Linked DNA regions of Homo sapiens. The protein of the gene in region 1 interacts with the protein of each later gene in a biochemical or structural test. Each region holds a gene or a part of one and is shown in the gene's direction. Other genes may lie near its edges. The genes, in order: FOXG1, TLE1, SRF and TLE6.

What was found.
Region 2: the proteins of FOXG1 (region 1) and TLE1 form a complex in vitro, tested with the Homo sapiens proteins (one study listed by BioGRID).
Region 3: the proteins of FOXG1 (region 1) and SRF form a complex in vitro, tested with the Homo sapiens proteins (one study listed by BioGRID).
Region 4: the proteins of FOXG1 (region 1) and TLE6 form a complex in vitro, tested with the Homo sapiens proteins (one study listed by BioGRID).

The regions. Positions count from the first base shown.
Region 1 is NC_000014.9:28,761,836-28,769,797, forward strand, and holds the start of FOXG1 (forkhead box protein G1), read left to right. Parts: upstream 1-4,951; 5' UTR 4,952-5,444; coding exon 5,445-6,914; 3' UTR 6,915-7,962. UniProt on the Homo sapiens protein: Transcription repression factor which plays an important role in the establishment of the regional subdivision of the developing brain and in the development of the telencephalon.
Region 2 is NC_000009.12:81,686,543-81,694,271, reverse strand, and holds the start of TLE1 (transducin-like enhancer protein 1), read left to right. Parts: upstream 1-4,724; 5' UTR 4,725-6,031; coding exon 6,032-6,055; intron 6,056-6,837; coding exon 6,838-6,938; intron 6,939-7,729. UniProt on the Homo sapiens protein: Transcriptional corepressor that binds to a number of transcription factors. Inhibits NF-kappa-B-regulated gene expression. Inhibits the transcriptional activation mediated by FOXA2, and by CTNNB1 and TCF family members in Wnt signaling.
Region 3 is NC_000006.12:43,166,331-43,174,282, forward strand, and holds the start of SRF (serum response factor), read left to right. Parts: upstream 1-4,938; 5' UTR 4,939-5,326; coding exon 5,327-5,839; intron 5,840-6,065; exon of another isoform or gene 6,066-6,134; coding exon of another isoform or gene 6,135-6,248; intron 6,249-7,516; coding exon 7,517-7,783; intron 7,784-7,952. UniProt on the Homo sapiens protein: SRF is a transcription factor that binds to the serum response element (SRE), a short sequence of dyad symmetry located 300 bp to the 5' of the site of transcription initiation of some genes (such as FOS).
Region 4 is NC_000019.10:2,980,555-2,987,570, forward strand, and holds part of TLE6 (transducin-like enhancer protein 6), read left to right. Parts: intron 1-983; coding exon 984-1,029; intron 1,030-1,593; coding exon 1,594-1,635; intron 1,636-2,641; exon of another isoform or gene 2,642-2,760; intron 2,761-2,829; exon of another isoform or gene 2,830-3,059; intron 3,060-3,115; exon of another isoform or gene 3,116-3,665; intron 3,666-6,274; coding exon 6,275-6,337; intron 6,338-6,428; coding exon 6,429-6,684; intron 6,685-6,801; coding exon 6,802-6,818; intron 6,819-7,016. UniProt on the Homo sapiens protein: Component of the subcortical maternal complex (SCMC), a multiprotein complex that plays a key role in early embryonic development.

The DNA.
Region 1 (7,962 bases):
GTGGCTCCCTAGCTTACACAAGCTAAACATTTCCACTCTCATAGACGAGGCTCTCCCATAGATTTTTTTACTCGAGGTTCTCAAGCAAAATTGCCGGTGCCACAATGTTATGATGGAAGGATGCTGAAATGACAGGCCTAGTAGACGCTTGTCTTAATCATCGGCTTCTTAATTTAGTTTTAGTGCTGTGTGTGTGTGTGTGTGTGTATGTGTGTGTGTGTACACACACGCGCGAATGTGCGCGCCCCCGGGGACGTTGAGGGTGCGCGTGCGCGCGCTGAGAGCAGCCACTGACAACCTGCAGCTCCCTAATGAGTGACGAGGCAGGGCTGCTGCAGAAAAGTAACACTTCCCTGGTGTGAAGACCTCTTACTGAGAAGTTTAGTTCACTACTGTTCTCGCAAACCTAATCGTATAACCTGTAACCAAAACCCACAGAACGAGGATACAACACGCTAAAGAGTAACTTCTAATCACTAAATGTTAGCACCATTACCTGCTGTTAGGAAGATATTATAGACGAGTTGGCTCCAGCGAGGGCAGACCTCACCTGCCACAGGATCTCTGGAAATACCTGGATGCCTCTGTATGGGATCTCCTCACTCCCAAACGTCACAAGGTCAGAAATTCTCTGTGCATCTGCAGGAAGAGAACTTTAGCTAGAGCTTGGCGCTGGGTGCCACTCCAAGGACACCCTGTCCAGGGAATGGAGAGCAGAGTGGATTTTAGGTAAATGGGGCCCACCTTCCTTTAACCAGCAGCTAGCAAGAAGAAAAGAGGCGGATCACTGACTGAAAACAGGAAAGAGGCCCTAAAGAATACTTAAATAACACCGCCAAATGGAAAAATGAAATGTTCTGCTCCCTACTCGGATGAAGTATGCTGTGTAGCCTTGGTTATTAATTAAAACTCCAGAAGGAATAATCTAATTCATTTCCTAACCAATTCTTCCATTGGAACTGCTCACTCTTTACGGGGCCTGACCTCTTTGGGAGAGCTGGGGGACTGCAGACAGAGCAAGAGAGAAGTTTACTGTGATATATACCAGAAAATTACATTTACTTTGACTTCTGCTTTTATTCATTAATAGTACACATTTGTAGATGTCTGTGTGAGAGATCAAGGTTAGATCCATCATGAGAAAAAAATTAGAATGATAGAGAATTTGTTTCAGGTCTGAGACAACTGAATTCCCTCTGTCTTCTGAAGGTAATCACGGTGACTGAGTGGGGCTGAAGATTGGGCTTCCAGTGCTTAGGGAAGAGGCCCGAGGTGGACAGAGGCAGGCCTTCAAATCCAATTTGCACCCAAATTGGCTGGTAGGATATACAAAGCCCCATCCAGAGACTTTCAACTTGCACAATACTCTGTCCAGGACCCCCCTCCCCCTCCATTTCAAATAGTAGCAGTTCTTTAAAAAAGCTATTGCTGAGACAAACACGGGGTGCTGAGTAAACAGTGCATGTTTTGTTGAACAAGCTATATATATATACATATATACACACACACACATATATATGTGTGTGAGTATATATATATATCACCATCTCGACATAAAGTGCAATTGAAATTATTAAAAGGAATTAAAACTCACTTCTTGCCAGATTACAAATAACTTTTGTCATTAGGAAGAATAGATTTTTAAATATTACATTAAACTATATACTATTTATGCCCATAAGAATATCCTATTTTGAGAGACTTGCATTCATGCAATCCTTAAACTATATAACATAGCCTTAATTTGAATGAAAAACATTTTCCCAGTCAATATGAGCTCCTAGCATATAAAATCAGATTATTACAGTGCTCATTAGCAAACCCCAGTTTTTGCTATTTGAAAGTAAACAGAAGAAAAACTTATTTCCACCTGCTAAAATTTTATACAGGATTACAAAACAATGCACGCTCAGATTTGACCTAAGAAACACCTTAAAACATTAAAAATTCATCAGTCAGAGCTGGTGTTGTATTGAAGGAAAGCTCCTCCAGTTTGCTGCTGAGCTCGGATTTGAATAAAATGTCCAATGTTAACAAACAATACCCACGTTTGGCACTTTGTGTATTAAATTGATCAAACAGATTTTAGGAGGCACAATGCACAATTTGTACAGACCTGATTGAGTTAATATAATATCAGCAAATTTTACATCGAAATGATTCTGTTTCTTTTCTTTGTGTTTAAAACCAGCACAGATTACAAATTTTAATGATCTGAAAATGTTTGGTATACAAAATCATGCTTATTTCAGTATTAGCAAAAACACAAGAAATTTTTCAACACAAACACCCAGCTGTGTCTATTTTAAAAGCAGTTCAATGACAGCTTGCACTTATGAGCATGCAATCAGCTAATTTCGTTTTTTTTTTCTTCTGTGTTAATCAACACTTTCCTTCCTGCATATCAGAGTACAAATAGTATAGTTACTCCACATCAGTAAATGTTTACGTAACCTGTCCTTTCCCAAGAATCCGGTTACACCGAATCATTTCACGCTAGACCGACTACGAAAACGTACCGGGCCGTCCACCTCAGAGGGAGCCCTGTGTGCCATTATAAGTGGTGGTGAGAAGGGGGGCTGTAAGAGGAGAAATTGGGAGGAGTAGGTGGAGGAATGGAGAGACAGAGGAATGGAGGGTGGGGGGAAGGGGCGGGGGGAGCTAAGGGAGAAGGAGGGAGGAGGGAGGAAGGAGAGTTGAGGAAAAGTAGGAAGAACGGGCCTGAAGAGGGGAGAAGAGTGGGAGGAGGAAAAGTGAGTAGGAAGGGGAAGGCCCACAAATCTCTCCAGCCGGTAGGCAAAGCCCATTAGCTCACCCGGCCCTGCGAGAAATCCAGAGCTTGGAAATAAATGTTTGGGACCATGTCACTATCAACACTGATTGTTGGAACCCTTGAATTTTTCCACATGTAAATACAGTTTGTTTTAAAGTGAGAAGATATGTAGACATAGGTAAAGATACATACATACAGTGGAAGGACATTTGAGGTTAGTCCAATATTCAAAGCTCCTTTGTGGCATTCCTAATAGATGCATATTTAAAATTCACTAGCTATTTGTAATTATCTATTATTCTCTCCAGTTTCCTCCCCCCCCCCCAACCTTTTCTCTCTTTCTCTTTCTTAAGACTGGGGGTGGGGAGGATGGAATAACCCCCTATTATCCTGAGTATTCATCAACCGCATTCTTTATGTTACAATTTAACTTTAGGATCAAGCATAAGCACCAATTTTCCTTCCTTCGTTTTCTTAAATACCAAATCTGCCAGATATCTTAATGAAAGTTTATCCAAGTGAAGAAATGCTTACATTTTATAATTATTTACCTTCTAGAGGAAGGAAAAGGTGCCTTTCATTTATGCTTCTCCACCTCCCTCTTCTCTGGGGCTACATCCTCCGTAAAATGTGGTATGTTTCGTGCCCATGTGGGATGAAACAGCCTTTGATCAATGTGCTCCCCACTAAATTCCAATCCCTGGGAAATGCTGGGCCTTAGCCCTGCCCCTGGCCACGGGATCCTTTTAAAGCCCCCGATTCGCAATTTCCCCATTCACTTCAACCTCCAACCGAACCTTCCCAGTTCCAAAGCCCAAGAAGCTGGGACTGTGAGATCCACGTTCCCAAGGCTCCCCGGTGCTTTCCAGCAGCACTCAGGGTTGGCAAGAGCTGGCTTCAGTATACTGTTATTTCAGGAATGAGGCCCGCACAAAATAAAAGCATTTGAGAAACGGAAAGGAAAAAAAAGGAGTGAAAATAGGAAGGCTTAAAAAAAAAACCGGAAAGAAATAGACGCCCACCCTTATTTTCCCTCCAATGTCAACAAGCAAAACGAAAATATTTCCAGGGTGATCGCTCGCAGCTACCCGCTTCCAATTCGGATTAGAAGCTGAGGCTGGAGCGGCGAGGAGAAAACGACATCGAGTCACCCCGCGCGTGAGCGACGCTCTGGAGCAGGAGAGAAGGAAAAGGAAGAGACACACGTATATAGCATGTGTTACCTGATTTATTTCGAGATTGTTTGGTACTGTTTTCTCTCTGGGCACCTCTCATTTCGGAAGGCCATCAGAGGCGCCCACTACTGAGCGGCCCCGGCCGCCGCAGCAGCACCCGGAGCCCCAGTCCCGGTTTCCCCGCGGTGCCGGAGCCCGGAGCTCGCCGCCGCCCAGGCCTCAGGAATCGAGTAAGTAACCCCTGTTTGGCCCCGCGCTCCTCTGCCCACTTCCTCCTCCTCATCTCATCGCTCCCAAAGCTCTCCCACACCCTCCTCCCCCGAAGTAAAGGACACCCCCGCACACACGCCAGCGGTGGGCCTTATCTCCCCCCTTATCCAAAGCTGCGCTAGACTATTACCTACAAAGGGCACAATTTTCCTGCTGGCTCAGAAATGCCAGACACTGGCCTGCAAGGCCGACTCGGAAAAGTAGTGCCTCGCCTCTACCTCCTCCATTTCCTGCCCTCTCGCATCCTCTCCCTGCACTCCCACTCTTCCCACTACCACCACCACCCCCGCTTTCAAAAATAAAATTGGATACAAACTTTAATCACTAAGGACAAATATTGACGCTTAAACGAAAATGACCCAGTACAATGAGGAGGAAGCCGGAAATGTGAGCTATTGGCCCTAGGAGGGGAATTTCGGTGGAGCGGAGCCGGCGGGGTGGAGGGGGTGGCGGGGGCGCAGGGAAGGGCTGCGGCACCGCGTGCTCCCGCCGGCGTATCCCTACGCGGCTCCGCGCGGCCTCGGGGTCCGAGGCCCGCGGAGAGGGGGAGGCGAGCGCCCGAGGGGGCGGCAGCCGGCGGGCGGGGCGGGGGTGGGTGGGCCCGGCCCCTCCGATTGGTCGACGGCGAGAGAGACGCTCCCGCACGCCGCCAGCTCTGATTGGCCCAGCGGTAGGAAAGGTTAAACCAAAAATTTTTTTACAGCCCTAGTGTGCGCCTGTAGCTCGGAAAATTAATTGTGGCTATAGCCGCCTCGATCGCTGTCTCCCCAGCCTCGCCGCGGCCGCTCCGGGACGCGCCCGCCCGCCGCCCGGCTCTCCCCCCCTTTGGGCTGCTGCTGCTGCTGCTGTGACTGCTGCTGCGAGAGGAGGAGGAGGAGGAGGAAGCAGCGGGGGGGGGAGCGGGGGGTGGGGGGGGAGACCAAGAAGTACAGTTGGGAGCGAGGGAGCTTCACCCCCGGGGCGGTGGTTGTTTCTTTTTTCTTTCTTTCTTTTTTCTTTTCCTTTTTTTTTTTTTTTCTAATTCCTGAGGGGTGGTTGCTGCTTTTGCTACATGACTTGCCAGCGCCCGAGCCTGCGGTCCAACTGCGCTGCTGCCGGAGCGCTCAGTGCCGCCGCTGCCGCCCGCGCCCCCCGCGCCCCGTTCGGCACCCACCGGTCGCCGCCGCCCGCCGCGCCGCTGTCCCGCTCCCGCGCCGCCGCCGCCGTTTCCCCCCGACGACTGGGTGATGCTGGACATGGGAGATAGGAAAGAGGTGAAAATGATCCCCAAGTCCTCGTTCAGCATCAACAGCCTGGTGCCCGAGGCGGTCCAGAACGACAACCACCACGCGAGCCACGGCCACCACAACAGCCACCACCCCCAGCACCACCACCACCACCACCACCATCACCACCACCCGCCGCCGCCCGCCCCGCAACCGCCGCCGCCGCCGCAGCAGCAGCAGCCGCCGCCGCCGCCGCCCCCGGCACCGCAGCCCCCCCAGACGCGGGGCGCCCCGGCCGCCGACGACGACAAGGGCCCCCAGCAGCTGCTGCTCCCGCCGCCGCCACCGCCACCACCGGCCGCCGCCCTGGACGGGGCTAAAGCGGACGGGCTGGGCGGCAAGGGCGAGCCGGGCGGCGGGCCGGGGGAGCTGGCGCCCGTCGGGCCGGACGAGAAGGAGAAGGGCGCCGGCGCCGGGGGGGAGGAGAAGAAGGGGGCGGGCGAGGGCGGCAAGGACGGGGAGGGGGGCAAGGAGGGCGAGAAGAAGAACGGCAAGTACGAGAAGCCGCCGTTCAGCTACAACGCGCTCATCATGATGGCCATCCGGCAGAGCCCCGAGAAGCGGCTCACGCTCAACGGCATCTACGAGTTCATCATGAAGAACTTCCCTTACTACCGCGAGAACAAGCAGGGCTGGCAGAACTCCATCCGCCACAATCTGTCCCTCAACAAGTGCTTCGTGAAGGTGCCGCGCCACTACGACGACCCGGGCAAGGGCAACTACTGGATGCTGGACCCGTCGAGCGACGACGTGTTCATCGGCGGCACCACGGGCAAGCTGCGGCGCCGCTCCACCACCTCGCGGGCCAAGCTGGCCTTCAAGCGCGGTGCGCGCCTCACCTCCACCGGCCTCACCTTCATGGACCGCGCCGGCTCCCTCTACTGGCCCATGTCGCCCTTCCTGTCCCTGCACCACCCCCGCGCCAGCAGCACTTTGAGTTACAACGGCACCACGTCGGCCTACCCCAGCCACCCCATGCCCTACAGCTCCGTGTTGACTCAGAACTCGCTGGGCAACAACCACTCCTTCTCCACCGCCAACGGCCTGAGCGTGGACCGGCTGGTCAACGGGGAGATCCCGTACGCCACGCACCACCTCACGGCCGCCGCGCTAGCCGCCTCGGTGCCCTGCGGCCTGTCGGTGCCCTGCTCTGGGACCTACTCCCTCAACCCCTGCTCCGTCAACCTGCTCGCGGGCCAGACCAGTTACTTTTTCCCCCACGTCCCGCACCCGTCAATGACTTCGCAGAGCAGCACGTCCATGAGCGCCAGGGCCGCGTCCTCCTCCACGTCGCCGCAGGCCCCCTCGACCCTGCCCTGTGAGTCTTTAAGACCCTCTTTGCCAAGTTTTACGACGGGACTGTCTGGGGGACTGTCTGATTATTTCACACATCAAAATCAGGGGTCTTCTTCCAACCCTTTAATACATTAACATCCCTGGGACCAGACTGTAAGTGAACGTTTTACACACATTTGCATTGTAAATGATAATTAAAAAAATAAGTCCAGGTATTTTTTATTAAGCCCCCCCCTCCCATTTCTGTACGTTTGTTCAGTCTCTAGGGTTGTTTATTATTCTAACAAGGTGTGGAGTGTCAGCGAGGTGCAATGTGGGGAGAATACATTGTAGAATATAAGGTTTGGAAGTCAAATTATAGTAGAATGTGTATCTAAATAGTGACTGCTTTGCCATTTCATTCAAACCTGACAAGTCTATCTCTAAGAGCCGCCAGATTTCCATGTGTGCAGTATTATAAGTTATCATGGAACTATATGGTGGACGCAGACCTTGAGAACAACCTAAATTATGGGGAGAATTTTAAAATGTTAAACTGTAATTTGTATTTAAAAAGCATTCGTAGTAAAGGTGCCCAAGAAATTATTTTGGCCATTTATTGTTTTGTCCTTTTCTTTAAAGAACTGTTTTTTTTTCTTTTGTTTACTTTTAGACCAAAGATTGGGTTCTAGAAAATGCACTTGGTATACTAAGTATTAAAACAAACAAAAAGGAAAGTTGTTTCAGTTGGCAACACTGCCCATTCAATTGAATCAGAAGGGGACAAAATTAACGATTGCCTTCAGTTTGTGTTGTGTATATTTTGATGTATGTGGTCACTAACAGGTCACTTTTATTTTTTCTAAATGTAGTGAAATGTTAATACCTATTGTACTTATAGGTAAACCTTGCAAATATGTAACCTGTGTTGCGCAAATGCCGCATAAATTTGAGTGATTGTTAATGTTGTCTTAAAATTTCTTGATTGTGATACTGTGGTCATATGCCCGTGTTTGTCACTTACAAAAATGTTTACTATGAACACACAGAAATAAAAAATAGGCTAAATTCATATATATCTTGATACTTTTGTCTCTTTTATTAAGTAGAGCTAATTTTTTAAAGACCAATCAACTTATAGGGAATTCAAAGGCTTTTTCAGCCAAACTAAAATTTAAACTGCTCCTTTAATTTGAACTGACTC
Region 2 (7,729 bases), on another chromosome or scaffold:
ATTTATCTCTCCATGTTTGGGAGTGCCTGTGTGGTCTCTTCCTACTTTATTTGCACTCCAATCCTTGGGGATCTCATCGCAATCCCCCTAGGCAAAGGGAGATTAGGGAATAGGGCTTTCTGCTTCTCCCCACTCTGACAGAGAAGGGAAAACAACTTCCCCAAGTCCCTCAAGTTCTTCTGGCCACAGTACAAATTGTTCTTGAGCATGGAGGGCTTCCAAAAGCCCTAATTAGCAACTCACAGCAAACATTTCTTTGCATTAGCTAATGATCCGGCTGCACTTGTAAGCAAACAGAACCAACATATCTAATCAATGCTGAAAAACCAACCAAATGCCTATTAAACATCTGGATGTAATTTTCTAGTTAGAACAAAATGAAAACATATGCAGGTTCCTTTGATCTTCGTCTTAACAAAGAAATTGTTGATAAAAAAGCATACTGGTCAGTCAATGTGTCATTTTCATAAAGTCTGCTCATTTCTCTTCAAATGCTCCCAGTTTAATTTAGTTGGTTTCCTGCAATCTCTAATTTTACCATATTGTGTGAAACCGCAAGAGATTCTTTGGAAGTGATTTTATTTGAGGTTTTACTGCTGCATGGATCTGCTACTGATTTTTTTTCCCTTCTCTGCGTTCTTCCTTTCACCTCCACGTCCATCTTGCCCTTTTCTTTGGTAAAGGAGTGGGGGAGAAAAAGATTACCAAGAAATGCTGGGAAAAATTCTTCTGGACCCTACATTCTTAGGTTTAAGAAAACTATCAATTAAAAAAAAAAAAAGGTGGGGCGGGGTGGCTCACGCTTGTAATCCCGGCACTTTGGGAGGCCAAGGCGGTCGGATCACCTGATGTTAGAAGTTCGAGACCAGCCTGGCCAACATGGTGAAACCCTGTCTCCGCTAAAAATACAAAAATTAGCCGGGCGTGGTGGTACACGCCTGTTATCCCAGCTGCTCAGGAGACTGAGGCACATGAATCGCTTGAACCTCGGAGGCGGAGGTTGCAACGAGCTGAGATCGCACCACTGCACTCCAGCTTGGGTGACAGAGCGAGATGCTGACTCAAAAAAAAAAAAAAAGTCAAATGAGGAAATGTATGAGCAATAATTCTCAGCTAAAAGGAAGAGAACACAACAAAAGTGGTCTGTTAAAAACTATAATTATTGGCCAGGTGTGGTGGTGCATGCCTGTAATCCCAGCACTTTGGGAGGCTGAGGAGGGCGGATCACGAGGTCAGGAGTTTGAGACCAGCCTGGCCAACAAGGCGAAACCCCGTCTATACTAAAAATATAAAAATTAGCCGGGTGTGGTGGCACACGCCTGTAGTCCCAGCTACTGGGGAGGCTGAGGCAGGAGAATCTCGAACCCAAGAGGCAGAGGTTGCAGTGAGCTGAGATGGCACCACTGCACTTCAGCCTGGGAGACAGAGTGAGACTCCGTCTCCAAAAAAAATTAAAAAATTACAATTATTATTTCAAATAAAAAAGTAATAGATTTAAAAGATGTCTAGTTGCTACGATCAGCATCTATAACTTTTCCTATTTTGTTTAGTATCTGTACTAGATAACATCTAGCTTTTGTAATTACTTAGGCTATTGCTGAGTTGAAAATTTGATAATCAGCAACAAATGAATGGGAATATACCCACATATGCATCAAAAGAAAATGAACAAGCTGACAATCTTTCTGTTTCTCTGCAGAGCATAAAAAGGGTACTGTGTTTTTCAGAGAAAATTTCCAGTGGGAGCATCATACATTTCACATAAAAACATCATTGACATATGAATGTTAAAGGTAAAGAAGATTATGGTTAACAGGCTTTAAATGGAAGACCAAAATTATAGATTTCATGAGGAGGACTATTTTCTTTTAAACAGGCTGTAGGCAATCTGCACATATATTATTTATTTAAAACATAAGATTAAAGCTACTTGACTGTTTAAACGCCGTCATTTGTAATGCAGTTTGATGAGAGTTTTGTAGTATAATTATTACAGCATGACAATCGTGGAGAAAATATGACCTTGAAAAGGGCAGAGCCTTCTCCCACTCTGACAGACGATGCTCTAAATGGGAAAAAAAGGCTTCAAAAACCAAAACCAACCATTTTTATGCACACAATTAAAGGCCTTCCAATTTTAAATTCATAATGCTCTGTAGATACTACAGATACTTCATTATAAGGAAATCAGAAGGCCTGGTGTTTCAAACTCTATTGGCAAGGAAAGACTAGTTAAAAGAGAATTTCTAGTGTTTACTCATGGCAAACTGGGAAATATGGTGAGCAGACACATTGTCTGTGAGTAGTTATGTTAGAGAACATTTAAAGATGCCTTAGTACTGATTTTGAGGGCAGCGGGGTGGGGAAAGAAGAGAAGTAGCAACACTTTTGCCCCATCTCAAAGCATATTTTAATGGCTCTGTTTAAACTTAATGGGAGTGTGCCAGTTATTCAAGATACAGGCACCACATAAAGCCTGGGTAAGCCGGGGAGGAATATCAGTTGCTCCAGTTGTCACAGCATGTATACAAGCATACTTGTGGCATCCAAGCACTTTCTGTCCGGTCCTGGAGCTGATTATGGGATGAACTGGCCGCAGACTGGTATATGTGGCTCAATCACTAGATAATTTCAAGGAAAACAGGTTGCTAAAGGCCCTGGGATCCTATGATTCCAAAAAGTCCTGTATGTCGAGCAAAACTGTCATCGTCACCAAATTTAACCAAGGAAAGTGAGGCAGTGCTTTCTTCTTTTTTGTTCTCCATGTTAGCAAAATGAATAATACAGCCGCCTTCCCAACTGTACTTAATGAGAACACCACAAAGCTACAATGCCCAACTTGTTTAAGAATTTACTATGGCTTCGTACAGACTGGTTAAAATCGCTTTTTTATTTTTTCATTTATAATTGATATTTGGGAGTGATGCAATTATAGACAAATCAATATCATACATATTTAAAAACAACTCCAACAGTGAAATGTATTATCTAAAATGACTTCTAAAACTATTTCAAGAAAAAGAACTCTGTAAAAGCACATCTTTAAATAAAATGTATGTCTGTTTAAATAAGCTCCTTCCCGTAAGTCTCTTGAAGGTAAAATAATAAAATAATAACGTGGGGGTTATTAATACCAAAAACTTAACTAGTTTCCAACATAAGATAAATACTTGTCCAAGATGTGCCCTTATGGAAGAAGTTACCACCGTTTGGCTAAACCAGCATTATTCATTCACTGCTCATGTGGAAATGTTCCTCAAACAAAAGCATAAATGCGGCAATACTGACGGTTTTCTGCTGTGTATTTAGAGACATACACAAAAACCAAAGACTCTCAGCATTAATTATACAGCATGTCTTGATTATTACAATCTCAAAATCCCTTTTAACTCAAGTTCCACTTCATAAGAACCTTAGCCACGTCATTTACCTAACTCTTCCCATTTAGCTCTTCACACAGCTCAGCTCAGGAGTACCACCCAGACTGTGGGGGTGGGGTGTGCGGGACAGGTTTTTCAGGTCTCAGTGCTGGTTTATTACATTGTCTCTCTTTGTTCCCAGGAATTGGAAACAGACTCGTAGTCTTGTAGCTGAGAAGTTCCTAAAAACCTCAGCCGCTCCCCACCTCTCCCAACACAGCGAAGTCAGGACTTTTAAGACGAAGACCTGGGATTTCGCGCCCCGGGCAAAACGTCTCATCTGCGGACACGCGTGCCTTGTTCTGGCAGCACCCTGGGAATCCTTCCCGCCAAACGGGACAGGACGATCTTTTTGAAAAGTGGCTTGAAATCCTGCAATAAAAATCAAATCCTACCACTTTGGGTGCAAAGGGGGTGGGTGGGGTGGGAGGACATCACAGTCGTCTTTGCTGGTGTACCTACGCCAACCGTGGCGTTGCTCATTTACGCATTTCCAACTAAGTGCACAGTCCACTCCCTCTCGTACATCCGTAAAAAGGCAGCTCAAGGAAAAACAAACCTCAGATAAATTTTTGAATGTGGCCTCACTTTTAGAGTAGCATCAAACAAGGGGTCCAGCACTGAAAAACACATTTGCTCGAATTACCAAAAGCCCCCCTCCGCCTCCAATAAGAAACTCCGCAGCTAGTCTTTGAGTTACTTTCACTTAGATCTGAGGATTTTCATTAAAGGGAAAAGTGAGCAAGTGGCAGGATTTTTGCTAACTCGAGCCCTCAGCTTCCCCGGCTGCACGCTCGCCAGTCCCTCCCGCTAGCGCGCGCCCGCGCGCTCTCTAGCCAGCCCCACGTTACTTTGATTGACAGCCCAGCCCCGCCGCTCTCCTTCCCACCGACCTTCCCATCATCAGTGCCAATCTCCGCGAATCGCCGCTTCCCATTGGCTGGTTTTGGCGTCCCGCGGCTCCTCCAGGAACAGTTCCTCACCAAGCCCGGGAGGACGCGGCTGGCGGAGGAGGGGCCGGGATGGGAAGGGAGACCGAGGAGACGGCGGAGATGGAAGCGAGAGGAGGGGGGGAGGGAGAACGCCCCGTCCGGCGCTGCGCTGCCATACGCTCCGGGGAGGAGCGCGTCAGCGCCCCACGTTGGTTGCAGCGCACGCGATTGGCTGATGCGGGCCTTCTGCCCCCCCCCCACCCCCCAACCTCCCGGGCTCACGTCCCCCGCCGGCTCCGCGCTCGCGCCCCCCGCCCGAACGGGGCTGGGCGGGGCCGGCGCTGGTTAGCTCCGGAGTGTGAAACCGCGTGTTAATGTAAGCGGCGCGAGAGGCGCGGGCGGCGGCGGCGGTGGGAGCGGCGGCTGCAGAAGCAGCAGCAGCAGAAACAGCGGCGGGTACTCTGTGCCCCGCGTCCCGGAGGCAGCCGACTGCGCCACCCCACCCTCGCACGGCCGGGCGGGACCCGCGCCACCAGCCCGGACCTCCGTCGTCCCGCGGCGACCAAAACCCCCGCTGGCCCCACCGCTGTGACTACTCTGGACTCGCCCGCAGAGTTTGCCCGCCGGGGAGGGTGGCCGATTGGCGGAGCGCACTCCTGCTGTTTTCCCCACCATCTCGTGGATGTCGTCCCTCGGGTGGTGAGAGAACTTTGCAGTGGGCTGGAGCGCCCTTTGCGGAGAAGCACACGAAGGTGAAGGAAGGAAAGAAAGAAGACCGAGGAAGAAGGAGCTCGGAAGAAGGGTCCGGAGCGGCCGGTCCGGCCGTGCAGGGCGAGTGCGCCCGAGGCGCGGCGCCCTGATGCTCCCCGGGCTCGAGGAGCATTGGGCACTTGCGGGACTGCTCTCGGTGGAGTAGCCCCGTCGGGCCCGGAGGGTTTGTGCAACCGCGGAGAACACCGAGTGCTGGTCGCACGGGGCGTGCCGAGCCGCCTCCCGGCGCGCCCTCCGCACTTTCCCCGCCTCGTCATCCGTCGCTCCCCGGCCAGGAGCCTCCGCTGCGTCTTCAACCTCGCTCCCCTTTGCGTCCCGGGAGCCTGCGAGCACCCGGCCGAAGGCGCAGCCGAATCTTGCGGGAGTCGCCCCGAAAGCGTCGGGTTTGTGTGGGGTTAGCGGGGGCCGCCGCGCCACCTGCACCTCGCCCGCCGCCGCCTCGGGGAAAGCCCGAAGAGGAGGCGGACCAGGAGAAGAGCAAAGAAAAGCAGTCCGTCTGGATTTGTTTGCCCAGGACTGGCGCCGCGCACGCGGATCGCCGAGGGGAGTGCGGTCGGAGTCACCGCGCCCCCGCCTCCCCGCCCGGGCAGCTGAGGCCGGGGGTTGGAGCGCTGCCCCCGCGCACAGTCCCCGAGCGCCCGACGTCTCCGCGCAGGTTCTTGAAGCAGCTGGGCCTGGGGCGCCCACTAATGTGGCCCTGAGGGCCGGAGCCCGCACCGACGGGAGCGGGAGCCGGAGCAGCTGCGGGCGCCGAGTGGCCGGTGCGCCCGGCGGAGCGCGCGTGCGTGGCCAGCGCGCTCCCCGCTTCTGCTTGGCTTTCCGGCTTAATTTTCCTCGGCGGGATTAAAGTTGGAAATTGACCGGAGAATTGAGTTGCCGGGGAACAGAGCCCCGGCCGCCGCCAGAGCGATGTTCCCGCAGAGCCGGCACCCGGTGAGGCGCGGCTGGGTGGTGGTGGGGGGCCAGGATCGTTGGGGAGGCGCTTCTCCCGGGCGGTAGGGAGACTGGTGGCTTCTGAGGCCCGGCGGACCTTCTCGCCCTCAGCGGTGTAAGGCTGGGGAGGTCTGGGGCCCTCTCTTCCTGGGGTGGGGAGTGGGCCGAAACTCTTAATTTTCTCCCTCCCTTTGGGCTCCTTCCTACTTGACGTCTATACCGAGCGGACAGGGGCGCTGGGGAAGGCTGGGGTTTCTCTCCTGCAGCCATATCCCCTCTACCTTCCCCGAGTGGGGGCAGGGCGCCCCCCCCTTTGTTTCTCCTCTCGCCTATTTACATGTCAATGCGGCCCCGGTTCCGGTGCGTCTGGAGGTGGCCCCGGCGACTCTGGGAATGGGGAGCGTAAAGGAGTTGTTTTTCTCCTCTGGTCCCCGGGGTCATTATCGCCGCCGTGGGGGAAGGGGCGGCGACACCGACAATCTGGCCTGGTCTTCCCTGGCCGCCGGGGAGCCCCCTTCCCTTTGGCCTGGTGACCCGGGCGCACTTAGCGCAATCCGCCCTGGAGACTGGGAAGAGCTTCCGAGCCTCTTTAGAAGCCGGGGCCCGGGGAGGGTCCGCTTTCCCCCTCCCCATAGTGAAGGGCAAACTCGAGTTTGGGGCCTCGTTTTCAGCCACTTCTAACTTTATGTTTATGTCCCACCCGTTCTTGCCTTCTCTGACTTACTGCTTTATTCATCCGCCCGCATTCCCGTCCCTCGGTCCCCCTCGCTGGTCGCCCCCAGACGCCGCACCAGGCTGCAGGCCAGCCCTTCAAGTTCACTATCCCGGAGTCCCTGGACCGGATTAAAGAGGAATTCCAGTTCCTGCAGGCGCAGTATCACAGGTGCGTGTCCGGCCGCGCCATGCGAGTGGTCGCGGGCGTCCCGGTGCCCCTTGCACCCAGCCGGGTGGCGGCGGCGCCTGTACTTAGTTCTTGCGTCCAGGCGGTGGCGTGTGGAGTCTCAGTTAAGACCTGTCATTCAAGTTACCCCCTTTCCTGGTTCTTCCCGGGCCGCCTCTTCTCTTGTCTCCTCCTCCTCCCATTGTTTCCCTTTTGCCGGTTTGCACTGTTCCAGGGAGTCCTTTTTCATGTCTTTAGGAGTTGCATGAGAATCGTCAATATTTGCACTTCATGTATTTATTTTTCAGCAGACTGAGCTGAAACATTGGTTCAATCGATGTCTCAGTCCTGGAGTGTGGGTTCAGGGAAGCAAAGCCATGTTGAAATCGCTGTTTGCCATACTAGAAAATTGGGTTTTCTGAGGCAAAGTCCATTAAGGAAGGCTAGATGCTTATAACATTGCCCATCATTGGTGATGGTGAGGGAGGTGGGTATAATAGTATAAAGAAGAAAGCTCACCTGCTTTGGCGTCATTTCGGATTGGTTTGGGTAGGATGAGAGAGTGGAGTCACATTTATATCCATCTCAGCCTTAGTTTCTTCAAGTAATGAGACTTACCTTCAAAGGACTTATAAATTTTTGTAAAATACTTTGCCAATAGTGAACTTCCCAGAAAGGTTAGTTTCTTTCCCTTGTTCCTATGAAGTTTTACCTGATTCTAACTCAGAAATAACTGTATTGACATTTTTTGCTTTTGTCATGCTTGAGAAAAAGCACACAGATGAGGCGAAGTG
Region 3 (7,952 bases), on another chromosome or scaffold:
CGATTCTCCTGCCTCAGACTCCCCAGAAGCTGGGATTATAGGTGCCCGCCACCACACCCAGCTAATTTTTTTTGTATTTTCAGTAGAGACAGGGTTTCACCATATTGGCCAGTGTGGTCTCAAACTCCTGACCTTAAGCGATCCATCCGCCTCAACCTCCCAAAGTGCTGGGATTACAGGCATGAGCCACCGCACCCGGCCTATTTTTGCTTAATTTTAAAAGAAAAATATAAAAGTCATATTGATTGTCAAAGAAGTCACATGGTACAAACTTATATAAAGCAAAAAAACACACCCCTCTCATCCCAAACCTCACTCTCCATAGGTAAGCACTATTAGTGTTTGGAGTGTGGCTTTCCAGACTTTTCCTGGGCACAATGACTCATAAATTCTTTTCCATTACTGCTAATGCTGCCATCACAATTGATACCCTCTTTGCCTCTGTGCAAAATTATGAATCCCTGAGTAAAGGTTAATTCCAAATGAAAACAGATTTAGGGTATTTTGACAGTAATTTTTTTTTCTTTTTTGAGACAGGGTTTTCCTCTTACCTAGATTGAGTGCAGTGGTGCCATCATGGCTCACTGCAGCCTGGGCTCAAGCAATCTTCCCACCTCAGCCTCCCTAGTAGCTGGGACTACGACTACAGATGCGTGCCACTGTGCCCCAGCATTTTTTTTTTTTTTTGAGATGAAGTTTCACTCTTTCACCCAGGCTGGAATGAAGTGGCACGATCTTGGCTCACTGCAATCTCTCCCCTCCAGATTCAAGTGATTCTCCTGCCTCAGCCTCCTGAGTAGCTGGGATTATAGGCATACACCACCAGGCCCGGCTAATTTTTGTATTTTTAGGAGAGGTGGGATTTTTGCCATGTTGGCCAGGCTGGTCTTGAACTCCTGACCTCAGGTGATCCACCCTCCTAGGCCTCCCAAAGTGCTAGGATTACAGGCATGACCCACCTTGCCTGCCTGTGTTTTTTTTTTTTAAGAGATGGGGTCTCATTGTGTTGTCCAGGCTGGTGTCAAAACTCCCGGACTCAAATTATCCTCCCACCTTGACCTCAAAAAGTGCTGGGATTTTAGGTGTGAATCACTGCACCCAGCCATGACAGTAATTTTTAAAAGCAATCCTTAATTTTTGTTTGTTATTAGTTAGGTGATAAAAATCAGAAGAAAGAAAGAAAGGTCAGGGTGGAATCTGTGTGGTGTGAGGGATCTGGCTGAAATTCCCATGCACTTACAGAGGCCCTTCATGGTCTGGGGTGGACATGAGCTCCCATCTGTTGCAAGGTGCTACTCTGATCAGGCCTTTTCGGAGGAACATTTCAACTTCACATTTCAGAGCAGCCAGGCAGGAGCTTACCTAGGCTCAGTAGGCTGCGTGGAGTCTATGGTAAAGTGGAGAGCCTCTTCTATGGCCACCATCAGCTCCAGGTTATAATGCTTTTGTGGGTACCTAGGCCCAGTGTTACCAAAAATTCTGATTTTTTTGAGAGAGGTCAGATATTCAGATTTTTTTTTTTTTTTGAAAAGGAGTCTCACTCCGTAGCTCAGGCCGGAGTACAGTGGCCCCATTTAGGCTCACTGCAACCTCTGCCTCCCAGGTTCAAGTGATTCTCCTGCCTCAGCCTCTCGTGTAGCTGGGATTACAGATGTGTGCCACTATGCCCGGCTACTTTTTTATTTTTTTAGTAGAGATGGCGTTTCACCATGTTGGCCAGGCTGGTCTTGAACTCCTGACCTCAAGTGATCCATCCACCTTAGCTTCCCAAAGTGCTGGGATTACAGACATGAGCCACCACGCCCGGCCAGACATTCAGATTTTTATGTAAACTCTTATGATTTTTAAATGTTATAAGGTCCAAATAAAACACCTCTATGAGACAGTTTTTGATTTTGACTTTATCCCTAGCAATACTTTTGGCTCTGGAACCTGCAGTAATCCAATAGTGTGGGTAGAGGTCTCCTCCTGACTCCCTGTGGTGACAAAGGACATGAAGATGGGCCATCCCAAGCAGACAGAGAAGCTGTGACACTAACACTGGTGTGCAATGACCCAGGAGTTGGGAGAAGTTGAAGAGAGGGCAGCCTATTTGAAGGGAAGCTAAGGACTGCGTTCTTCCCAGACACCCTCCCCTATAGATGTGACAGAGAGCAGTTGTCCCTGCTGAGGGATGTCACCCCTGCATGTGTCTAAACTAGGGGGCGCAAATGAAAGGGTCTTTAGAGGGCAGGTGGGAATGAAATCCCAGAGCTTTGGCTGTAATATTATGGTGCTCAGACAAAACATGACCCCAGGCATCATTTGTGGTCCCTAAAACCCTTCTGGAACCTATTTATCTGTTTGACCTGTTCTTCCTCTTGGGCTAACACGTTCCATATGTTTAAGTACCTGTTGTAAAGAGTAAATTAGTGGAGGGAGGGGAGACCTCTTTAAAACTATTGGGGGCTGGGTGCAGTGGCTCAGGCCTTTAATCCCAGCACTTTGGGAGGCCGAGGTGAGAGAATCGCTTGAGCCCAGAAGTTTGAGACCAGCCTGGGCAACATAGGGAGACCTTATCTCTATATGACAAAAAATACACACTATATTTTATTCACTATACACACAAAATACACACTATATTTTACTGATCACTTGCACATATTTTATTTCAGTATTTTTCAAGCTTTTGGATTGTGACTCACAGTAAGAAATGCAGTTAATATTGTCATCCATTACACACATACACTGAATTATGAGAAATTGACAATATCCCACCTTCTTGACCTATAAAATGGCAATTTTGTAGGGTTCAACCTATATATAATGCAAACAAACATTTTATGCAACAATATTTGCCCTTGCTTTTTGTGATACCCATTAATTTATTCTTTTAAATGTTGATTGTAGTATACTGAATTGATATCACTACCACTACCAGTAATGACTAGGTTACAATCAACTGCTTTATTTAATCTCCATAATTTTTCGGGCAGGAATAATCACTGCCTCCCATCCCCTTAAACATGCCAAGATGCTTTATCCCTAGGATGAGGTGACTTACTCCAGGTAACTCCTATTGCCTAACCACTGACCAATTACTCTGCCCTTTAGTCTTTATGTCATTAAATCTGCATTAAGAATTTCATGGAATAGGCCCGGCATGGTGGCTCATGCCTGTAATCCCAGCACCTTGGGAGACCGAGGTGGGAGGATCACTTGAGGTCAGCAGTTCGAGACCAGCCTGGACAACATGGCGAAACCCCATCTCTACTAAAAACACAAAATAACTAGCCAGGTGTGGTGGTGGGCACCTGTAATCCCAGCTATTTGGGAAGCTGAGGCAGCAGGAGAATCGCTTGAACTGGGGAGGCAGAGGTTGCAGTGAGTCGAGATCGTGCCAGTGCACTCCAGCCTGGGCGACAGAGCGAGACTCTGTCTCAAAAAAAAAAAAAAAAAAAACTCAGGGAATGGATAGCAGCATTGATGAATATTGCGTCTGGAGAGATCAGATCACTTGTCACTTGTTTCCAGGCACAGGGCTTACCAAGAGGCAGATTCCAGATTTAAATAATTCTGTAACAGCAAAGTCCAAGCTATTTTCACTGCTTTGGAGAAAAGACCCAGACCCAGAGCTTGAACCTCACTTTGCAGCACCCCAGTTCTAATCTTTTAAGTTTTTTTTTTTTTTTTTTTTTTTTTCTGCTGGGCACGGTGGTTCATGCCTATAATCCCAGCACTTTGGGAAGCCGAGGGGGAAGGATCGCTTGAGGCCAGGAGTTCGAAACCAGTCTGGGCAACATGGCAAAACCCCATCTCTACAAAAAATACAAAAATTAGGCCAGAGTGGTGGCGCGCACCTGTAGTTCCAGCTACGTGAGAGGCGGAGGTGGGAGAATCGCTTGAACCCGGGAGGCAGAGGTTGCAATGAGCTCAGATCCCGCCACTGCACTCCAGGTTGGGCGACAGAGCGATACCCTGTGTGAAACTTTTTTTTTTTTCTCCAACGGGCTTTCCAGAGAAGTGTGTGTATGTGCGTGTGTGTGCGCGAGCGTGCTTGCTTGGGCTTAAACTTTCTGTCGGGCCACACTTTCCCAAGTCTTTGCACTGGCTGTAGGGTGGGCTTTATCCTCGGGACGTCCTCCTCCCCAAGTCCAGCCTGCAGCTGGAAGTCTTCACTGATCTCCATCTCTCCTCCCTGATCTCCGTCTCTCCTCCCTGCCCGCCTCAGGACTGGGAGGCCGATCTCTCTCTCTCGCCCTCCCCTCCACCAGCCTTTTCCAGATGTATGTCTGCCAAAGACCCCCCAGTGCAGAGGATGATGAATGAAGATCCTCGAGCCAGCCCGGTGGGAAAGTTTCGTCGCCTACAAAAGCGAGGGAAAGGGAAGGGAAGTTGGGGGTAGGGGAAAAGTTAGAGCTGAGAGGCTGGGGCGCGACGAGTCTGGACACCGGGCGGGGACCCAAGCTCTCTCCGCTCAGCCAATAACTGTGCCTCCCTTAGGAAGGCGTGAGGAAATGCTCCAATCAATCCCTGCACTCCTCCCTTGGAATTTGGGCTGTATTTTTTTATTTACTGCAAACCCCACAATCCACCCAGGGGTTTCCCCAGTGTTTGCCTCCAGCGGTCCCGGTGCCCATTTACTAGTGCTGCTCCCTCTCTTCCGCAAGACTGCGCTCCAGTCCCAGCCTCCTTCTCCGCGGGTGCCTCCCAAACCGTTCTATCATTCTCGGGTTCAGGGAGGCGGAATCGTGCCTGCTCTCCGGTTCCTTTAAGAGGCGTCGGCTCCACCCCTCTCAGAGTCGCGGTCTGACGCGAGATGACAGCAACGAGTTCGGTATGTCTATGCAAATAAGCGCCCTCTTGTGGGCCAATGGGGAGCGGAGGTGCCGGAACCACGGACCAATGGGGCGGGGGCGCTGGGGCTCACCATATAAGGAGCGGCCTCGCCATAAAAGGAAACATTGTATCTCTTTATATGGGGGGAAGGGTCGGGGGATCCCTCCGCCGCCAGCGCGTGGTCCCGGCCCCCTCCACCCGCCGTCTCGGCCGCGGCCAGCAGCCCCTGCCCCCCGGGGGACGCTGACGGCCGCCCGGCGCGCCGCCCTAGCAGACGGACAGGGGGCGCTGCGCGCGGCCTGGGGCAACCCGGGCCACAGGGGCAGGAAAGTGAGGGCCCAGGTCGGCCCGGGCGTGCAGGGGCCCCGGGTTCGCAGCGGCGGCCGCGGCAGCGATAGCGGCACTAGCAGCAGCGGGAGTGCCGGGTTGAGCCGGGAAGCCGATGGCGGCGGCTGCGGCGGCTCCGATTCCTCGCTGACTGCCCGTCCGCCCTCCTGCATCGAGCGCCATGTTACCGACCCAAGCTGGGGCCGCGGCGGCTCTGGGCCGGGGCTCGGCCCTGGGGGGCAGCCTGAACCGGACCCCGACGGGGCGGCCGGGCGGCGGCGGCGGGACACGCGGGGCTAACGGGGGCCGGGTCCCCGGGAATGGCGCGGGGCTCGGGCCCGGCCGCCTGGAGCGGGAGGCTGCGGCAGCGGCGGCAACCACCCCGGCGCCCACCGCGGGGGCCCTCTACAGCGGCAGCGAGGGCGACTCGGAGTCGGGCGAGGAGGAGGAGCTGGGCGCCGAGCGGCGCGGCCTGAAGCGGAGCCTGAGCGAGATGGAGATCGGTATGGTGGTCGGTGGGCCCGAGGCGTCGGCAGCGGCCACCGGGGGCTACGGGCCGGTGAGCGGCGCGGTGAGCGGGGCCAAGCCGGGTAAGAAGACCCGGGGCCGCGTGAAGATCAAGATGGAGTTCATCGACAACAAGCTGCGGCGCTACACGACCTTCAGCAAGAGGAAGACGGGCATCATGAAGAAGGTACCAAGCCGGGGGGCTGGCCGGCCCCGGGGCCCGGTTGGGGTGGGGATGTGCAAAGGGAGCCCGGGAGGACCGCAGAGCCGAGGCGGAGGTGAGAGGCTGCGAGTCCGCAGGAGGTGTGTGGGAGGGGATGGCTCCTGCCCGGGGAGGGCCGAAGGGGAGGGGCCGCCGGGGAAATGTGGGGAGAGGGGAGATCCCGCGAACGCTCGCAACCGTGGGGAAAGGCGCAGAGGTGGGAGTGACCGGCGCCAGAGAGGAAGAGGGCCCTTGCTGAGTGAAGGGGTGAGGAGCGGTGATGGGAGGCTACGAGGCTGCCGGGGAGGTGGATAATGAGAACCCGGGATCAGTAGGTCCAGTGCACTCCGGTGTTCGGACGAGGGCGCCGGAAAAGCAGGGAGCAAACGAGAAGGTATGGAGGTGAGGAGGCTGGAGCTGCATGACAACAATGAGCGAACATGTGTGGGAGGAAGTGGGCACCACGAGAGTAGTGCTGGTTGGAAGGACAGGCAGGGTTAGGGACCAGGTAAGGGAGCGGGGCAGGAGAACTGGTGCTGCCCTGAGCAGCAGGAACCTAGTCCTGCGCCGGCCGTGAGTCTTCCATGGCATCCACTGGGAACCACATGCTCCTGGCAGGACCCGCTGCAGAATCTCCTGCCGTTAGGACAAGTGGGGTTTCCAGCCCTAGGGAGAATCTATGCTTGGATGGGGTTTGGGGGAAGTCAGGGAGGCTTGCAGAGGTACCTAGGAATTCCTCTTCTGCCAGCCAGTGAAAAGTGTTGAGGAAAGGAGTCATTTTGGGGTGTAGACGATAAGGGAAGAGATGAAAGCAGAGGAACTGGGAGACAAGGAGCTGGATCCTTGGGAACACTGGCTGGTGTTTATTTCTGTCCCATGTAGAAACCAGAGCTGCTTCCAAGGTGGTTTGCAGAACTTTGTTGGGAGAGTATGGCATCTATGGGGCCATCCTTGAAGGTCCCCTTCCTGGGCTCATGGCAGGATGTTTAGTGCTAATCTAGGTCTCGTCTCCCATCACTCCAGACACTGTTGTATCAGTGTCCCTTGTCACTTGATCATCAGTGGAGAAGATTGTGGGGGGAGGTAATTAAGGAAAACTCTCTTCTCTCCTTCCATAACCTTCTTCCCAAGACAAAGGAGTAAGGGCAGTAAAGTATTACAGGGCAAAAGGAGAAACTAGGCTGTGGCAACAAGTTGGAGCCTGTGCAGTTTCTGGAAAGAAACATGGGACAGTTGGAGCTTAAATGGTCCATTATCACTAATGTCTTGTACAAATTCCAGTGTGATAGGTAGGGATCCATCCTGGTCCCTGTGACAGTGAGAAGGGGTGAGGCTCTGGGACATTCCAGGCACTAAGCTGTGTTGGGGAGCAGCTAGCTGGGTCCTTCGTATCCCCTGAAGTTATATGTTCCATCACTGGGGGCTGTTACTGTTTGCTTGGGGTATCTTCAGGTCAATGGGGCTGCTCCTCAAAGGAGGAGCATGGGTAGTTTTGCTGCTTCCAGAGATCCTGATAGGACACCCTGCCCTCAGAGTCATTAGAGACGAAGGTCATTATGGGAATGGGGGAATGACATCACTGTATAATTCTTTTTCCAACTTCTCAAGGAAGGTAGAGATAAAAAGTTTGCTGACCTGCCCATCTCCCTCCTCACCCCTCAGGCCTATGAGCTGTCCACGCTGACAGGGACACAGGTGCTGTTGCTGGTGGCCAGTGAGACAGGCCATGTGTATACCTTTGCCACCCGAAAACTGCAGCCCATGATCACCAGTGAGACCGGCAAGGCACTGATTCAGACCTGCCTCAACTCGCCAGACTCTCCACCCCGTTCAGACCCCACAACAGACCAGAGAATGAGTGCCACTGGCTTTGAAGAGACAGATCTCACCTACCAGGTGTCGGAGTCTGACAGCAGTGGGGAGACCAAGGTGTGTTTGGGTTGCCTATGTGAGAGGAGGGAAGGGAGTGGGGTCCCTCTCCCTTTCTGGCCCAGGACAGGTGGATAGGTGCCCACCGATGTGGAGTGGAGCCGGATTAACGACCCTCGTCCTAGGGGACAGGTGTCCATCCTCACTTTCCTGATAGAAGACCGCCCCC
Region 4 (7,016 bases), on another chromosome or scaffold:
GTGAAACCGCGTCTCTACAAAAAATACAAAAATCAGCCAGGCTTGGTGGTGGGTGCCTGTAATCCCAACTACTTGGGAAACTGAGGCAGGAGAATCTCTTGAACCCAGGAGGCGGAGGGTTGCAGTGAGCCAGGATCACACCATTACACTCAAGCCTAAGGCTACAGAGTGAGACTCGGTCTTTAAAAAAAAAAAAAAAAAAAAGTACTGCATGGGCTGGGTGCAGTGGCTTGCACTTGTAATCCCAGCACTTTGGGAGGCAGAGGCAGGAAGATCGCTTGAGCCCGGAGTTCAATACCAGCCTTGGCAACATAGCGAGATGCCATCTCTTAAAAAATAAAAAAAATCTAGCTGAGTGTGGTGGTGCACACCTGTAGTCCCAGCTACTCAGGAGACTGAGGCAGGAGGATCATCTGAGCCCAGGAATTGGAGGCTGCAGTGAGCCATGATTGTACCACTGCACCCTAGCCCGGGCAACAGGGTGAGATTCTGTTTAAAAAAAAAAAAATTGAAGAAAGTGGCGGGGCGCGGTGGCTCAAGCCTGTTGTAATCCCAGCACTTTGGGAGGCCGAGGTGGGCGGATCACCTGGAGTCAGGGGTTTGACACCAGCCTGGCCACCATGGTGAAACACTGTTTCTATTAAAAATACAAAAAAATAGCTGGGTGTGGTGGCAGGTGTCTGTAATCCCAGCTACTCGGGAGGTCGAGGCAGGAGGATCTCTTGAACCCAGGAGGCGGAGGTTGCAGTGACACTGCACTCCAGCCTGGGTGACAAGAGTGAGACTCTGTCTCAAAAAAAAAAAAAAAAGAATATACTGCATTAAAATCTTACTGAACTTCTTGACACTGCCTTAAATTTGGCTTCTGGAGCCAGTGCCTTCCAGCTTCATTGAGACCCTCCCTAGGGGTTGAGGGTGGGGCTCACTCTGGGGAGGGAGTCCTGAAGCCACAGGTCTTCCAGCCTGTCCTCCTTCCCCCTCAGGTTTTCTCCTCATTTTGCTGCGGAGTTGGAGAGCATTTACTACTCGGTGAGCCAGACCCAGGCAGCCCCAACCAAGGAGGGCCCCACTGGGACAAGCTGAGGCCCTGGTTTCCCGGCCCTGCCTCCTGAGTGCCCTAGAGAGGTTCTTTTCCGCCAAGCACTGTGCCTCACGCCTGTAATCCCAGCACTATGGGAGGGCGAGGCAGGTGGATCACCTGAGGTCAGGAGTTGGAGACCAGCCTGGCCAACATAGTAGAGACCCTGTCTCTACTAAAAATACAAAAATTAGCCGGGCATGGTGGCAGGTGCCTGTACTCCCAGCTACTCGGGAGGCTGAGGCAGGAGAATCGCTTGAGCCCAGGAGGCAGAGGTTGCGGTGAACTGAGATCACACTGTACTGCAGCCCAGGTAACAGAGCAAGACTCTCTCTGAGGAAAAAAAAGGTAGGGACCATACATCAGTGTAGTAAGAAAGTAAAAGAGAAAACAAGGTGAAAACAAAAATTTAAGGTGGGGGAGTAGGGGCCAGAGAGGTAGAGCAGCTTGCCCAGGGTCACACAGCATTCACACCCGGACCACCTCCCGATGGGATCTCTGTTTTCCCTTTGCAGCTGCACAAGATCCAGCAGGATGTGGCAGAACATCACAAGCAGGTGGGTGACCAGGAGCTCAGGGGTGCGGCTGTCCCTCCATGAAAGGCATGAGAAAGCACAGAGGGGGGCCGGGCACAGTGGCTCAAACCTGTAATCCCAGCACTTTGGGAGGCCGAGGAGGGTGGATCACTTGAGGTCAGGAGTTCGAGACCAGCCTGATCAACATGGTGAAACCCCGTCTCTACTAAAAATAAAAAAATTAGCCAGGCGTGGTGGCGGGCGCCTGTAGTCCCAGCTACTTGGGAGGCTGAGGCAGGAGAATTGCTTGAACCCGGGAGGTGGAGATTGCAGTGAGGCAAGATCGTGGAACTGCACTCCAGCCTGGGCGACAGCGAGACTCTGTCTCAAAAAAAAAAAAAAAAAAAAAAGGAGGTGGGGGATGGTGAAGACAGAGGACGAGGGGTAGGTCATGCTGAGCCTTGTGGGCCGTGGGAAGGACTTGGGCTTTGACCCCAAGGGAGGTGGGAGCCATGGAGGACTGCTGGCAGAGGAGGGACATGCCCTGACTTGGAAGCCCCCGTGATATTAGTGGAGGCCCCATATCTTGGGGAGCATCTCCTGTCCTGTCTCTGAGCTGCTTCCAAGAGAGGGTCAGTCCTGCTCCTTCCGCTCCCTGGGCCCCTGCGCAACCTAGATGACCCTTTGCCGGTCAGTTGCTTTGGACAGAGAGAGCCTGTGATGGGGCAGGCACCCGGCTGTGTTCCCCTGCGTGTCTGAGTGTTCAATGAGGGGCCATATGACATGGGAGTGAGGGGAGCTCTGCATGGGAGGGGGCGCCCGGGCTCCCATCTCCCAGCCCAGGGCGCCTGGCCCAAGCAGAAGTACGCCTTCCAGCCCTGCCTGTCCTCCCGCCACCTGGCCTTTTCTCCCAGGCGCTGGCAGGATTTTCCGCCTGTGCCAGATGTAACTGGCAGGGGCCCAGGGCCGTGTCTGCAACTTAGCAGGGCCTGGGAGGAGGGGGGCAGCGAAGGGAACAGGGTGAGGGGGGGCCAGGAAGCAACCAAAACATGGTTATTCATTCAGCAGATATTTATCCATCACCTCCTTGCCAAATACTGTTGTAGAAGCCAGGAAAATAGCAAAGAACGACGCAGAGCTTCCCACCCTTGGGGCGAGTGGAGCCTGGTAGATGGAGTGTTAGGGGATGAGGGCTGGGCAAGGCGGGGGATGGAAGAGAGCAGCCCCAAGGGGATTGGGGAGGCCAGGGTGGGCGAGGGTTGCAATTCAGGGTGGTCAGGGAAGGCATGCGAGAAGGTGACATCTGAGCGGAGGCTTAAAGGACATCAAAGAGGAAGTGTGGCTGTCTGGGATGGGAGGGATATTTCAGGCAGAGGGCACAGCCTGTGTGAAGGCCCTGAGGCAGGACGGTGCCTGTTGTGTTGGTCCTGAAGGCACTACGAGGAAGCCCGCATGGCTGGAGCAGAGTGAGAGGAGGAGGGGGGGAGGGCAGGCCACGCATGGCCCTGTGAGCTTCAGGGAGGACTTGGGCTTTGAACCCTGAGGGAGGGAGGTGGGAGCCATGGAGGGCTTCAGACAGAGGGCAGGCCCTGGCTACTGCGGAGAGGACAGAGAAGAAGGAGGAGGGATGAGGGCAGAAGCCCGGGAACCAGTTAGGACAGTCCAGGTGTGGAATGCTGGTTGCTTAGTGATGAGAAGTAATTGAATAATTGTGGACGTGTTTTGGGAGGAACTTGACCGCAGCTGCTGAGCATCAGGATACGCAGGGGGTGAGGGCTCCAGAGCAAAGGAGCCACTTCGGTTGCAGCCAGACCCAGGAGGGTCCCTGCCCAGCCCCCACTGCAGGGGGCCCCAGGATCCCTGGCAGCCCAGCCTGGCCTGTGGTCCTGGGCAGTCCGCTTCCCCCACCCGCTGCTTCCAGTTCCGGGCTTTCCCAGCCGCCTCGCTGTGCTTTCAAAATCGCCATCAGCACAGCCCCCTCCTCCGACAGCCCGCCTGCCACTCTCCCCCGGGAGGGCTGCTAGCAGGCACAAGGGAGCCACACTTTTCATGCTGAGCGCATTAAAGTGCCGGTAAATTGCGCATTAACGAGGCGGGGTGAATTGGAGAGGGCTCCCCTGGGATTTGCTGCTGCTGGGCGGGCTCAGCTGGGAAATCCATCACTGGCTGCCCCAGGAGGCATCAGCCTGGAGTCCCCCCCCCCCCGCGGGGCTCCGATGGAGGGTCTCCCCTCCCGGCCCCTCCCTCCGCCGTCCTGCTAAGGAAACAGACAGGTAGCCTTTTTGTAGAAAAAAACTTAAGAGATAGGATCACTCGCCTTGCTTTCTTTTTTTGTTGTTTTGACGGATCATGCTCCGTCTCCCAGGCTGGAGTGCAGTGGGAGGATCTCAGCTCACTGCAACCTCCACCTCCTGGGTTCAAGTGATTCTCCTGCCTCAGCCTCCCAAGTAGCTGGGATTACAGGTGTGTGTCACCATGCCTGGCTAACTTTTATGTTTTTAGTAGAGACAGGGTTTTGCCATGTTGGCCAGGCTGGTCTCGAACTTCTGACCTCAGGTGATCCGCCCGCCTCAGCCTCTCAAAGTGCTGGGATTACCGGTGTGAGCCATCGCACCTGGCCAATTTCTTTATACTTTGAACATGGCTACTAGACATTCCATATGCATGACTATATTTATGTATTATTCCAATTCTACTTGTACTGGATGGTATTGATCTCGATTTTATTCTGTTTACTGAGAAACTACATTTAACTTCGGGATTGACAGTGGTCAGATGGCTTGATTTTTGTTGTTGTTTGTTCGTTTTAAATAAAACACCAGACTGGGTGAGGTGGCTCACGCCTGTAATCCCAGCACTTTGGGAGGCTGAGGTGGGCAGATCACCTGACGTCAGGAGTTCGAGACCAGCCTGGCCAACATGGAGAAACCCCATTTCTACTAAAAATACAAAATTAGCTGGGCATGGTGGCGGGTGCCTGTAATCCCAGCTACTTGGGAGCCTGAGGCAGGAGAATTGCTTTAACCCAGGAGGCAGAGGTTACAGTGAGCAGAGGTGGTGCCATTGCACTCCAGCCTGGGCGACAGAGCAAGACTGTCTCAAAAGAGAAAAAAAAATTACCACTGACTTGTTTCTATCAATTCTCCCCAGCAGGTAACCCTCAGTTTCTTAGTATCTTTCCAAAGTTTAAGCAAATTAAAACGTCTTCCTCACCTAGGGAGACCTAGGTATGCTGTTTTGCTGCTTGAAGCCTTTTTTTTTTTTTTTTTTTTTGAGACAAGTCTCGCTCTGTCACCCAGGCTGGAGTGCGGTGGCATCATCTCGCATCTGGGCTCACTGCAAGCTCCGCCTCCTGGGTTCAAGCCATTCTCCTGCCTCAGCCTCCCGAGTAGCTGGGACTACAGGCACCTGCCACCATGCCTGGCTAATTTTTTTTTTTTTTTTTGTATTTTTAGTAGAGATGGAGTTTCACCATGTTAGCCAGGATGGTCTCAATCTCCTGACCTCATGATCCGCCCGCCTCGGCCTCCCAGAGTGCTGGGATTACAGGCGTGAGCCACCGCACCCGGCCTGCTTGAAGTCATTTGAAGCAAAGTGTGGTGGTGGTCAGGTTTTCTTTTTAAAACATCCCAAAAAGAGTAGCTGGGGCCAGGTGTGGTGGCTCACACCTGTAATCCCAGCACTTTGGGAGGCCAAGGCAGGAGAATCATCTTAGGTCAAGAGTTCAAGACCAGCCCGGCCAACATGGTGAAACCCTGTCTCCACCAAAAATACAAAAATCAGTCTGTGTAGTGGCACACGCCTGTAATCCAGCTACTTGGGAGGCTGAGGCAGGAGAATTGCTTGAACCCAGGAGGCGGAGGTTGCAGTGAGCCGAGATCACATCACTGCACTCCTGCCTGGGCCACAGCGTGAGACTGTCTCAAAAAAAAAAAAAAAAAAAAAAAAAAAAAAAAAAAAAAAGATATATGCCAGGTGCGATAGGCCGGATGCGGTGGCTTAAACCTGTTATCCCAGCACTTTGGGAGGCACACGTGGGAGGATAGTTTGAGGCCAGGAATTCAAGACCAGCCTGGCCAACATAATGAGACTCCCATTTCTACAAAAAGTGTATTTAAATTAGCTGAGCGTGGTGGTGCATACCTGTAACCCCAGCTACTCAGGAGGCTGAGATGGGAGGATCACTTGAGCCTGGGAGGTTGAGGGTGCAGTGAGCTGTAATCGCACCACTGCACTCCAGCCTGGGTGTCAGAGTGAGATCTTATCTGCAAAAAAGTAGATGAAGGCTGGGGGTGGTGGCTTATGCCTATAATCCCAGCACTTTGGGAGGCTGAGGTGGGCAGATCACCTGAGGTCAGGAGTTGGAGACCAGCCTGGCCAACATGGTGAAACCCCATCTTTACTAAAAATACAAAAATTAGCTGGGTGTGGTGGTGTGCACCTGTAATCCCAGCTACTCAGGAGGCTGAGGCAGGAGAACCACTTGAACCTGGGAGGCGGAGGTTGCAGTGAGCCGAGATTGCACCACTGCACTCCAGCTTGGGTGACAGAGTGAGACTCTGTCTCAAAAAAACAAGTAGATTGATATACCTTCTTCTACAGGTGGGGATAATCATGCTGTAGGATTGCAAACCCTTAACTGCAACAACATTTAACTGTTTTGCTGCCAACCTCCTTCTAGATAGGAAACGTCTTACAGATTGTGGAGAGCTGCAGCCAACTCCAGGGTTTCCAGTCTGAGGAGGTGAGTTTCTGGGTCTTCAAGGAGGGGAGGGGACAGGCTTGGGTGAAGGCTCATCCTCAAAGCTCTCACTGCCTTGTTCCTGCCGGGCCAGGTCTCACCTGCTGAACCAGCCAGCCCTGGGACGCCCCAGCAGGTGAAGGACAAGACCCTGCAGGAGTCGAGCTTTGAGGACATCATGGCCACCAGGTCCTCCGACTGGCTCCGGCGGCCTTTGGGGGAGGACAATCAGCCGGAGACCCAGCTGTTCTGGGACAAGGAGCCTTGGTTTTGGCACGACACTCTGACCGAGCAACTCTGGCGGATTTTTGCCGGCGTCCACGATGAGAAGGCAAAGCCCAGAGACAGACGTGAGTGTCCCTGAGGGTGAGGGGGAAGGGGCAGCCACAGGCTGCGTCTCAGGGGCTGTGCAGTGAACCCTGCTGTTCTCTCTGTCCCCCTCCTCCTCTCCGTTGTCATGGTGACAGAGCAGGCACCAGGCCTGGTGAGTAAACAACCTCAGCTCTATCCAGAGGGGTGGGCTTCCGGGCAGGCGGTTGGGCTCCCCCAGGTCAGGGCACTGGGGTTCCTGTGGGATTTGTCTTCCTTCCATCCTGCCCCTCGGGTCCCCCGGGGGGGACTTGGGTGATCCAGGAGGCTATACTGGAGTAGCCCAGGACCCACAGCCCAGGGCTTCCAGGAC